Linked DNA regions of Homo sapiens: region 2 is linked to region 1. Evidence: fine-mapped expression QTL. A gene starts in region 1. The other region holds a variant in brackets. All regions are shown on one strand. Distances are between the middles of the regions.

The links. PIP is the estimated chance that this variant, and not a neighbour inherited with it, causes the effect.
Region 2: its variant is the best candidate, but not a certain one, in a credible set for the expression of RPL3L in whole blood (TOPMed, PIP 0.80).

What each region holds. Positions count from the first base shown.
Region 1 is chr16:1,952,004-1,957,262 of GRCh38, reverse strand. RPL3L (ribosomal protein L3 like) reads left to right here and starts at 2,574. Exons shown (of 10, transcript NM_005061.3): 1 at 2,574-2,634; 2 at 3,115-3,307; 3 at 4,221-4,389. The coding sequence starts at 2,632. RefSeq lists an enhancer at 2,870-3,859.
Region 2 is chr16:1,873,004-1,878,490 of GRCh38, reverse strand. LINC00254 (long intergenic non-protein coding RNA 254) reads left to right here. Exons shown (of 3, transcript NR_033914.1): 3 at 1-206. Among named protein-coding and RNA genes, the nearest start is that of MEIOB, 3.6 kb to the right of the region's middle. The variant C/T (reference allele first, on the strand shown) is at 3,213.

The sequences.
Region 1 (5,259 bases):
TTTTTTTTTTTTTGAGACAGTTCTCTCGCTCTGTTGCCCAGGCTGGAGTGCAGCGCGTAATCTCGGCTCACTGCAACCTCCTCCTCCTCCCAGTTTCAAGTGATTCTCCTGTCTCAGCCTCCTGAGTAGCTGAGACTACAGGTGTCTGCCACTACGCCCGGCTAATTTTTTGTATTTTTAGTAGAGACAGGGTTTCACCATGTTTCTGGTCTCAAACTCCTGACCTTACGTGATCTGCCCACCTCGGCCTCCCAAAGTTCTGAGATTACAGACATGAGCCACTGTGCCTGGCCAAAGTCTTGGAAAGAAATATGAACCATGAGACCCAAACAATCTTGACATTTTAGTAGCCTAGAATCTTAGTATCTATTGATGTAAGAACCACGTATCTTAGAGATGTCATAGGCCTGAAAAACTCTAGAATTCCACTGCTATAGAACTTTACAACTGGCTGGGCGGGGTGGCTCACACCTGTAATCCCAGCACTTTGGGAGGCCGAGGCGGGTGGATCACCTGAGGTCAGGAGTTTAAGACCAGCCTGGCCAACATGGCAAAACCCCATCTCTACTAAAAATACAAAAATCAGCTGGGCATGGTGGCACACACCTGTAATCCCAGTTACTAGTGGGGCTGAGGCAGGAGGATAGCTTGAACCCAGGAAGCAGAGGTTACAGTGAGCCGAGATTGTGCCACTGAACTCCAGCCTGGGCAACAGAATGAGACTCCATCTCAAAACAAAAACAAAAAAAACAAAACTTTACAACCATAGAATCTTTGAATTGAAAAAGATTTTGAGGGGCGCAGTGGCTCACATCTGTAATCCTAGCACTCTAGGAGGCCAAGGCAGGCAGATTGCTTGAGCTCAGGAGTTCGAGACCAGCCTGGGCAACATAATGAGATCCCCATCTCTATAAACAATACAAAAATTAGTGAGGCATGGTGGTAAGTGCCTGTGGTCTCAGCTACTCAGGGGGATGAAGGCAGGAGGATTGCTTGAACCCAGGAGACTGAGGCTGCAGTGAGCTATTACTGTGCCACTACATTTTAGCCTGGGCACCAGAGAGAAACCCTGTCTCAAAAAAAAAAAAAAAAAAAGAAAAAAAAATAAGATTTCAACCCCCTCTTCATTCAAAACTTAAATTCAAAATTTAAATTTGGCCAGGTGCTGTGGCTTATACCTGTAATCTCAGCACTTTGAGAGGCTGAGGCAGGAGAATCACTTGAGGCCAGGAGTTTCAGACCAGCCTAGGCAACATGGTGAGACGCCCGCCTCTACAACAAGACACATTTAAAAATTAGGTCCTGCTGAGGCAGAAGGACCACTTAAGCCCAAAAGGTTGAGGCTGCAAGTGAGGTATGATCACACCGCTGCATTCCAGCCTGAGCCATGGAATGAGACATTGTCTCTTTAAATAAGGCCAGGCGCGGTGGCTCATGCCTGTAATCCCAGCACTTTGGGAGGCTGAGGTAGGCAGATCACAAGGTCAGGAGATCGAGAACATCCTGGCTAACACAGTGAAACCTCGTCTCTACCAAAAATACAAAAAGGTAGCCGGGTGTGGTGGCAGGCGCCTGTAGTCCCAGCTACTTGGGAGGCTGAGGCAGGAGAATGGTGTGAACCCGGGAGGGGGAGCTTGCAGTGAGCCGAGATCACGCCTCTGCACTCCAGCCTGGGCAACAGAGCGACTCCATCTCAAAAAAATAAAAAAGATAAATTCATAAAAGTATTTCAATGATTGTGAATGACAGGAGTCAGATCTTGATTTTTTTTTTTTTTTTGAGACGGAGTCTTACCCTATTGCCCAGGCTGGAGTGCAGCGGCGCGATCTCGCCTCACTGCAACCTGCAACCTCTGCCTCCCAGGTTCAAGTGATTCTCCTGCCTCAGCCTCCCAAGTAGCTGGAATTAACAGGCCCACACCACCACGCCCGGCTAATTTTTATATTTTTAGTAGAGATGGGGTTTCACCATGTTGGCCAGGCTGGCTTTTTTTTTGTTTTTAAGACAGTGTCTCGCTCAGTCACGCAGGCTGGAGTGCAGTCAAGGTTCACTGCGGCCTGACATCCTGGGCTCAAGTGATCCTCCTGCCTCAGCCTCCCAAAGTGCTGGGATTACAGGCATGAGCCACTGCACTCAGCCAGGGATCTCAATCTGGAAGCACAGCTCTGGTGATCCTCAAGGTGCAGTCAGCCCTCCCCCTCGTCTGCCCTGTCCCCAGCCCTGCTCCCCGCTGTTTATCCAGCTGTCTCCCAGCCCTCAGGACAGGAACCCCCTCTGCCTCCAAGTCGGCAAACTGCTCCAGACCCCTCCTCTTGGCCGCTGCCTGGGAGAAGGCCCCCACCGGCTACCTTGGCCCCCACCTTGCCTGGCCAGTCCTGTCCTGGGAGGGTCATGACCCAGCCCCAGGGCCATCGAGGAAAGGAGTGCCAGCCCTGGCTCCGGGTGCCCCACTCAGGCTGTCTATCTGATGCCCCCAACACTGCCCCGCCCCTGCCTGCTCCTGGCACCGGAGACCCTGCTGACTGTGCCAGGGGCTAATCTGGGAACTGGCAGCTGTGAGTCCTGGCCCTGCCACTCGACCTCTGGCGGCTAGCGGCGAGGCCCCTTCCTGACCTTCAGGGATCGGCCACCATGGTTGGTGGGACCAGGGTGAGGGTGGGCTGGGGTTGGAGCTGGAACTCTGGGGGGGTGGGACAGCTGGGCTTCTGGATGCTCCCTCAGAGGGACAGTCTCCCAGCCTGTGAGGGGATGGGAGGCTGGAGGGGGAAACAAGGGGACGAGGGCTGGGCTCCTGGGCCTGGGAGGGCCCTGGAGATGAACAGATGGCAGCGGCCACCTGCCCCAGGAGCCCTTGGCTGCAGTATGGGTGCGACCCTCCTGGGCCCCAGGCTGAGCCCACAGAGGCAGGAAGCCTGTGGCTATGGAGACCCCATCCCAAAGACGCTGCCCCTTGGTGAACCTTCCTCTCCCCTCCTGTAGGCAGACAGGGGAGGTGCTGAGCACAGGCCTCAGTCTGAAGCCTGTAGTCCATTTCTCCAGGTATGGGTTCTGGGACCATCCAGCTCTACCACCAGGGACACCCCAGGTCTGACCTCCTTCCTTCCTGCCCCCCAGTCCCACCGGAAGTTTTCCGCCCCTCGGCACGGACACCTGGGCTTCCTGCCCCATAAGAGGAGCCACCGGCACCGGGGCAAGGTGAAGACGTGGCCGCGGGATGACCCCAGCCAGCCCGTGCACCTCACGGCCTTCCTGGGCTACAAGGCGGGCATGACCCACACCCTGCGGGAGGTGCACCGGCCGGGGCTCAGTGAGTCACAGTTGGGACCCTTGGGGGAGGGGGAGGGCTGAACCTTCCAGATGCTCGGAGCCAGAACTCACGCTTTTGGTCCAGACAGGGCCACAGTCCCAGGGAGCACCAGGCCTCGCCCCCGGGAATTGGGGTGGACGCTGAGCACAGGCAGGGCTTCCGGGCGGGTTCTGTCATGGCCCCAGCTCGCAGATGAGGACATTGAGGCACAAAGCAGTGAGGAACCTGGTCCAGTCACCGGGGCGGTAAGCGCAGGAGCTAGGATTCAAAGGCCAGCGCCCCAAGCCCTCGGTTCAAACCACCTGCCAGGACATCTGCACTTTTTGGCCATTTCGGGTCTATTTCATGTACCATTATTTCATATGTACGCCTATGTATATAGTTAGTTTTTGTTGTTTTAATCGTAGATTCACAAGTAGTTGTAAGAAATAATGCAGGCCGGGCATGGTGGCTCACGCCTGTAATCCCAGCACTTTGGGAGGCCGAGGCAGGAGGATCATTTGAGGCCAGGAGTTGCAGACCAACCTGGACGGCATCGTGAAACCCTATCTCTACAAAAAATACAAAAATTAGCTGGGCGTTGTGGCGAGTGCCTGTAGTCGCAGCTACTTGGGAGGCTGAGGTGGGAGGATCACTTGAGCTTGGGAAGTCAAGGCTGCAGTGAGCTATGATTGCACCACTGCATTGCAGCCTGGGTGACAGAGTGAGACCCTGTCTCAAAAACAGAAAAAGAAATCCATTGTAATCATTAGAATAACAAATGCTCATTTGGGCTCAGCCCCACCCTCTGGGGAATGCTGTCCTGGCTGGCCCCACACTCTCCTGTCCTGCCCCTATGTGGGCGGCTCTCCACTCCCTCCCCCACAGGCCTCAGGAGGTCCCCCTTCATGCCCCATCCCTGTGTCTCATCCAGAAATTTCCAAACGGGAGGAGGTGGAGGCGGTGACAATTGTAGAAACGCCGCCCCTAGTGGTGGTGGGCGTGGTGGGCTACGTGGCCACCCCTCGAGGTCTCCGGAGCTTCAAGACCATCTTTGCAGAACACCTCAGTGATGAGTGCCGGCGCCGATTCTACAAGGACTGGTGAGCACCGCCCTTGGCTGGGCCGTCCAAGGGCTGCTGGGACCACAGAAGTTGGGTGCCTGAGGCTCTAGCTCTTGCTGAAATGATAGGTGTGGGTGAGTAGGAAGCGAAGTCTCAACCGTCTGTGGGAGGTAGGAGTGTCTGTGTGTGTGTGTGTGTGTGTTGTGTGGTTGCCTTCATTTCAATAAAAGATGAGTAGGCTGGGCGTGCTGGCTCACGCCTGTAATCCCAGCACTTTGGGAGGCCGAGGCGGGTGGATCACTTGAGGTCAGGAGTTTGAGACCAGCTTGGCCAACATGGTGAAACCCCATCTCTACCAAAAAATACAAAAATTAGCTGGCTGGGGTGGTGCGCACCTGTAGTCCAGCTACTCAGGAGGCTGAGGTGGGAGAATCACTTGAACTGGGAGGTGAAGGTTGCAGTGAGCTGAGATCGTGCCACTGCACTGCAGCCTGGGTGGCAGAGTGAAACCCTGTCTCAATCTCAAGAAAAACACAAAAAACAAAAAACATGAGTACTAGAAGGCTGGAGATGAAATCAGGATGGAGGAAAAAGAGGAAACAAATATTCTAATCCTCAGGGTTAATTAAAAGGCTAATTTGGGCGGCTTGTGGTGGCTCACGACTGTAGTAGTCCCAGCACTTTGGGAGGCCAAGGCGGGTGGCTCATTTGAGGTCAGGAGTTCGAGACCAGCCTGGCCAACATGGTGAAAACCCGTCTCTACTAAAAATACAAAAAAAAAAATAAAAATAAAAAAATAAGCTGGGCGTGGTGGCAGACACCTGTAATCCCAGCTACTTGGGAGGCTGAGGCAGGAGAATCGCTTGAGCCTGGGAGGTGGAGATTGTAGTGAGCTGAGATTGTGCCGCT
Region 2 (5,487 bases), 79 kb after region 1:
AAGGAAAATGAAGTTCAGATGCTTGAGTGACACAGCTAATTAGTGGCAAGGCTGAGACTTTTGACCAGACAGCCTGACTTTTAGTTTCTACCATGCATGTTAACTCCTCCTAAACCCCATTTATTTTCTCATTTCAGACAACTGCGCAATAACACTGCTAAGATAAAAGCACTCTGATTAATAAACACTGAAATTAAGCAGGTTAAGAAATATCTATTGTCCTTTTCTCAGAGTGATAATTTTAAAAACTGAAATTGGTCTTTTGCACTCGCAGTTTTCTCTTGCTTCCTTAAACATTTGCGAAATATGAGAACAATATAAATAGGTTCTCAAGCTCTGAGCAAACCCTTAACCATGTAAATAAGCCCCATAAAGAACAAAGCCTGGCCGGGTGCGGTGGCTCACGCCTATAACACCAGCACTTTGGGAGGCAGAGGTGGGAGGATCGCTTCAGCCCAGGAGTTCGAGACCAGCCTGGGGAACCTAGGGAGATCCTGTCTCTACAAAAAATACAGTAAATTAGCTGGGTGTGGTGGGGGCACGCCCGTAGTCCCAGCTACTCGGGAGGCTGACGTGGGAGGATCACTTGAACCTGGGAGTTTCAGGTCGCAGTGAGCTGTGATTACATCACTGGACTCCAGCCTGGGTGACAGAGCAAGACCCTGTCTCAAAACACAAATAAATAAATACATACATAAATACATAAAATAAAATAAATAAAAGTAGAGTAGAGTTGGTTCATTGCAACAGATACTGTCTGGCCCACAAAGCCCTTTACATATAGCAACTTACAGAAGAATTTGTGCCCCTGTGATAGATAGCATTGGAGGTTTCCGCCTAGGGAAAGCTGTGGTGCAGCCCTGAGAAGCGTCATGTGGTAAGATTCATCCCTCTGAGGGCATGAGATGGGCTGGGGCAGGGGAGATGAGAGCCCCTGCAGCGTGCTGCTCCATCCCCTGACAACACTGCCAGAGCCGCAGGAGGGTGGCAGCAACAGACGTGGAGAGACAAGGGCAGGTGCTAAGGAAAAACAGAACCTGGCTCCTGATGATGACAGTGGAGGAGAAGGGAGGATTCAAGGCTGCCTTTGAGACGCTGAGCTTCAGTTACCAGGTGTTTTCCATAGAATTGGAAGGTTCTGAGCTGGCTTGGGGTGAGCCTAGGAGCTGAACTTTAGATACTTGGCAATGCTGCAGACGGCTGGCAAGGTGGGGCTGGAACAGCTCGGTCAGAGATGTTGTTAATGGCCACATAGCTGGCAAAGGTACGCTGCAATGATTTAGGAGGGTTTAAAAAATTATATGTGTTTATGGCTGAACGCGGTGGCTTATGCCTGTAATCCCAGCACTTTGGGAGGCTGAGGAGGGCAGATTATTTGAGATCAGGAGTTCAAGAGCAGCCTGGCCAACGTGGTGAAACCCTGTCTCTGCTGAAAATACAAAAATTAGCTGGGTGTGGTGGCGCGCACCTGTAATCCCAGCTACTTGGAAGGCCAAGACAGGAGAATCGCTGGAACCCGGGAGGTGGAGGTTGCAGTGAGTCAGGATTGTGCCACTGCACTCCAGCCTTTGTGACAGAGCGAGACTCTATCTCAAAAAAAAAAAAAAAAATATATGTGTGTGTGTGTGTGTGTGTGTGTGTGTGTGTGTGTTTAATATAAATGGTGCTGAAACATGGCCATGACAGCACTCCCAAGACATGGGCCCTTCCTTCTGTTGTCACCTCAGTAAATTTCCCATGGGATAGGCTTCCAAAGGTCAAAGCCTGTGCCTTGTGTGCTCATGCCCTCTTCTGCTCCCTCTAGTACGGGGTGCCAGACATGCAGCACGCAGGAACCACTCCAGGTCCCTGGGCACGGACTACGGATGCTGAGTTATTTCAAGCCCAGCACGTTACTCACTTCAGCTCAGCACCTCTCACCTTGTCCTGAGGCTTTCAGTTCCAGTTTCAATTCACCGTTCAACCTTTTTTAAAATTTTTATTTATTTATTTATTTTTTTGAGACGGAGTCTTAAAAGAGCTTAGGAGCTGAGCTTTACATACTTGGCAATGCTGCAAATGGCTGGAGCGCAGTGGCGCGATCTCGGCTCACTGCAACCTCCACCTCCCAGGTTCAAGCAATTCTCCTGCTTCAGCCTCTCGAGTAACTGGGATTACGGGCACCTGCCACCACAATACATTTTTGTGTTTTCAGTAGAGACGGGGTTTCGCCACGTTGCCCAGGTAGGTATCCAGCTCCTGACCTCAGGTGATCCGCCCACATTGGCCTCCCAAAGTGCTGGGATTATAGGTGTGAGCCACCACGCCCGGCCTCCAGTAGCTCTTAAATTGCTTCTTTTTGGCCCTAAACACGATTTCCACATCTAGTTCTTCCAGTCCCTTTTGCAGGTTACCTCACTCCTCTTCTCTACATAAACTTCTGCAAAAGTTTACAAAAAATCTGTAAATGTTAGTGTATCTACAACCTATTTATTTATTTATTTATTATTATTATTTTTTCTGAGATGGAGTTTCACTCTTGTTGCCCAGGCTGCAGTGCAATGGCGCAATCTTGGCTCAGTGCAACCTCCGCCTCTCGGGTTCAAGTGATTCTCCTGCCTCAGCCTCCCAAGTAGCTGGGATTACAGGCATGTGCCACCATGCCGGCTAATTTTTGTATTTTTAGTAGAGATGGGGTTTCACCATCTTGGCCAGGCTGGTCTCGAACTCCTGACCTCAGGTGATCCACCCGCCTCAGTCTGTCAAAATGCTAGGATTACAGGGGTGAGCCACCACGCCTGGCCTACAATCTATTTAAAACATGATTAGGCCAGGCACAGTGGTTCATGCCTATAATCCCAGTGCTTTGGGAGGCTGAGGCAGGAAGATTGCTTGAGTCCAGGAGTTCAAGACCAGCTTGGGCAATATAGCGAGACCCCATCTCTACAAAAAAATACAAAACTTAGCCGGCGTGGTGGTGTGCACCTACGGTCCCACGGGAGGCTGAGGTGGGAGGATCACCTGAGCCCAGGGAGGTCGAGGCTGCAGTGAACTGTGATCGTGCCACTGCACTCCAGCCTGGGTGACAGAGTGAGACCCTGTTTTGGGAGAAAAACAAAAAAGATGATCAGTCCTTTGATGGAGTGACGAGTGGGGGTGAGACTAATTATGCCAGTAACTGATCTATTAGTATTTCAGCTCCTGGGAGGAAGACCATAGTCACGGGATCAATG[C/T]TGGAAAAGTTATAGTTTTGTTAAATAAATAAAAGCTTATCTTGTAATTCATTAAAATAACTGTCAATTTTTAATGAATTTCTATCTTGTAATTCATTAAAATAACTGTCAACGTTTCTACTGATTAGAACGTGTAAAGTTTATGACTATATATTTTGCCTGTCACTCCTTTGTGACAGCTCCTAGATGTTTTGACAGCTGGCATGCTCTGGGGAGCTGACCATGTAGCCAACTACCGTTTCTTTAGCCAGACATGTGAGCTATTTCAGCTCTGACCCTTGTTCGCTCACCCTTGACTTCTGCATCAAGCGGCAAGGGCAAGCTAGCATTTCTAGTCCTTATTTCTGTTCGTGTACATCCAAAATATATTGACAAGTCAATCCTATTGTTAAGAGCAAGCCAATTTCACAGAACTGCTATAAAAAATGGAAGAAACAAATTCCGTACACAACAAGGGAGACTTAATTTCACGAGCGTGAAGCAATTCCACTCTTTTAGGCTTGTATTTTGAAGCATCGTGGCTTATGAGAAGCCTGTTGTGTCCTGGCAAGGCTGACACTGTTTGCTTAACCTTATGTAGCTTTCTGCAAAAATTAATTTACTAAAACGTGACAAAATTTAAAAAATTTTAGAATATTATTGCTTCACTGAGGCTCAAATGAAAAATGCATGAAAACTATTTTTATATTTTTTCCTCTCCTTTAAGATGGACTTAAAATGCTAGTTTATTTTATTTTGTTATTTTGTGTTTTTTTTTTTGAGACAGAGTCTCTCTCTGTTGCCCAGGCTGGAGTGCAGTGGCCCGATCTTGGTTCAATGCAACCTCCACCTCCTGGGTTCAAGCAATTCTCCTGCCTCAGCCTCCCGAGTAGCTGGGACTAAAGGCGCATGCCACCACGCCTGGCTAATTTTTTGTGTTTTAGTAGAGATGGGGTTTCACCGTGTTGCCCAGGCTGGTGGCCAACTCCTGAGCTCAGGCAATCCGCCCACCTTGGCCTCCCAAAGTGCTGGGATTACAGACGTGAGCCACTGCCCCCGGCCACTAGTTTATTCTTTTGGAAAGATAAAGATAGGTTTTTTTTTTTTGTTTTTTTTTTTTTTTTTTTTTTGAGATGGAGTCTCCATCTGTCACCCAGGCTGGAGTGCAGTGGCGTAATCTTGGCTCACTGCAACCTTTGCCTCCCAGGTTTAAGCGATTCTCCTGCCTCAGCCTCCCGAGTAGCTGGGATTACAGGCTCCCGCCACCATGCCTGGCTAATTTTTGTATTTTTAGTAGAGATGGGGTTTCACCACGTTGGGCCAGTCTGGCCTCGAACGCCTGAGCTCAGGCAATCTGCCCTCCTCAGCCTCCCAAAGTGCTGGGATTACAGGCATGAGCTACCAACCCCGGCCAAAAATATCTTCTTTTAAAGGCAGAGACTGGAAAGGAATAGGGACGATTTAAAAACCCAACTCTTCCCATTATATTTGAAATGGTGAAATGCAGGTACTTTATTTTGCTTCCCAGTATTATTTGGGAAATTAAAAAAAAATGAGGAAAAGAAAAACTGTATTTTAATAATAACATAAAACTTGGTTCTACAGTGGTATTTTTCTTTTATAATATGTGTGTGTTATATGCACCAAAGTTGTTCTTCTCTTTTTAAAGAGAAACTTAAATAATGCTACATGTGGACAGTAGTAGGTGACAAATTTAATGGACTTAGTTTTTGGATCTTACTTGCCCTGGGTTGGTACTCTGTTAACAAAAATTAGTATAAGTCATTAAACTAAAAAGATTTCTAAATGGAAGTAATTAAAAACATGAAGAGCTGAGAAAATTTTTGTCAGATTCACCTAAGTCCAATCCTTAGCACATCTAATTATATATATATTTTTCATACATAGATATACACATCTAGGGTTTTTTCTTTCTTTTTCTTTTTTCTTTTCTTTTGAGACGGAGTCTCGCTCTGTCACCCAGGCTGGAGTGCAGTGGCGCGGTCTCAGCTCACTGCCAGCTCCGCCTCCCGGGTTCACGCCATTCTCCTGCCTCAGCCTCCGGAGTAGCTGCGACTACAGGCACCCGCCACCACGCCCGGCTAATTTTTTGTATTTTTAGTAGAGATGGGGTTTCATCTTGTTAGTCAGGATGGTCTCCATCTCCTGACCTCGTGATCCGCCCGCCTCGGCCTCCCAAAGTGCTGGGATTACAGGCGTGAGCCACCGCGCCCAGCCCATCTATGGGTATTTTCTTGATGTACTACATGCCAAATCTATCATTAGATGTAGATAT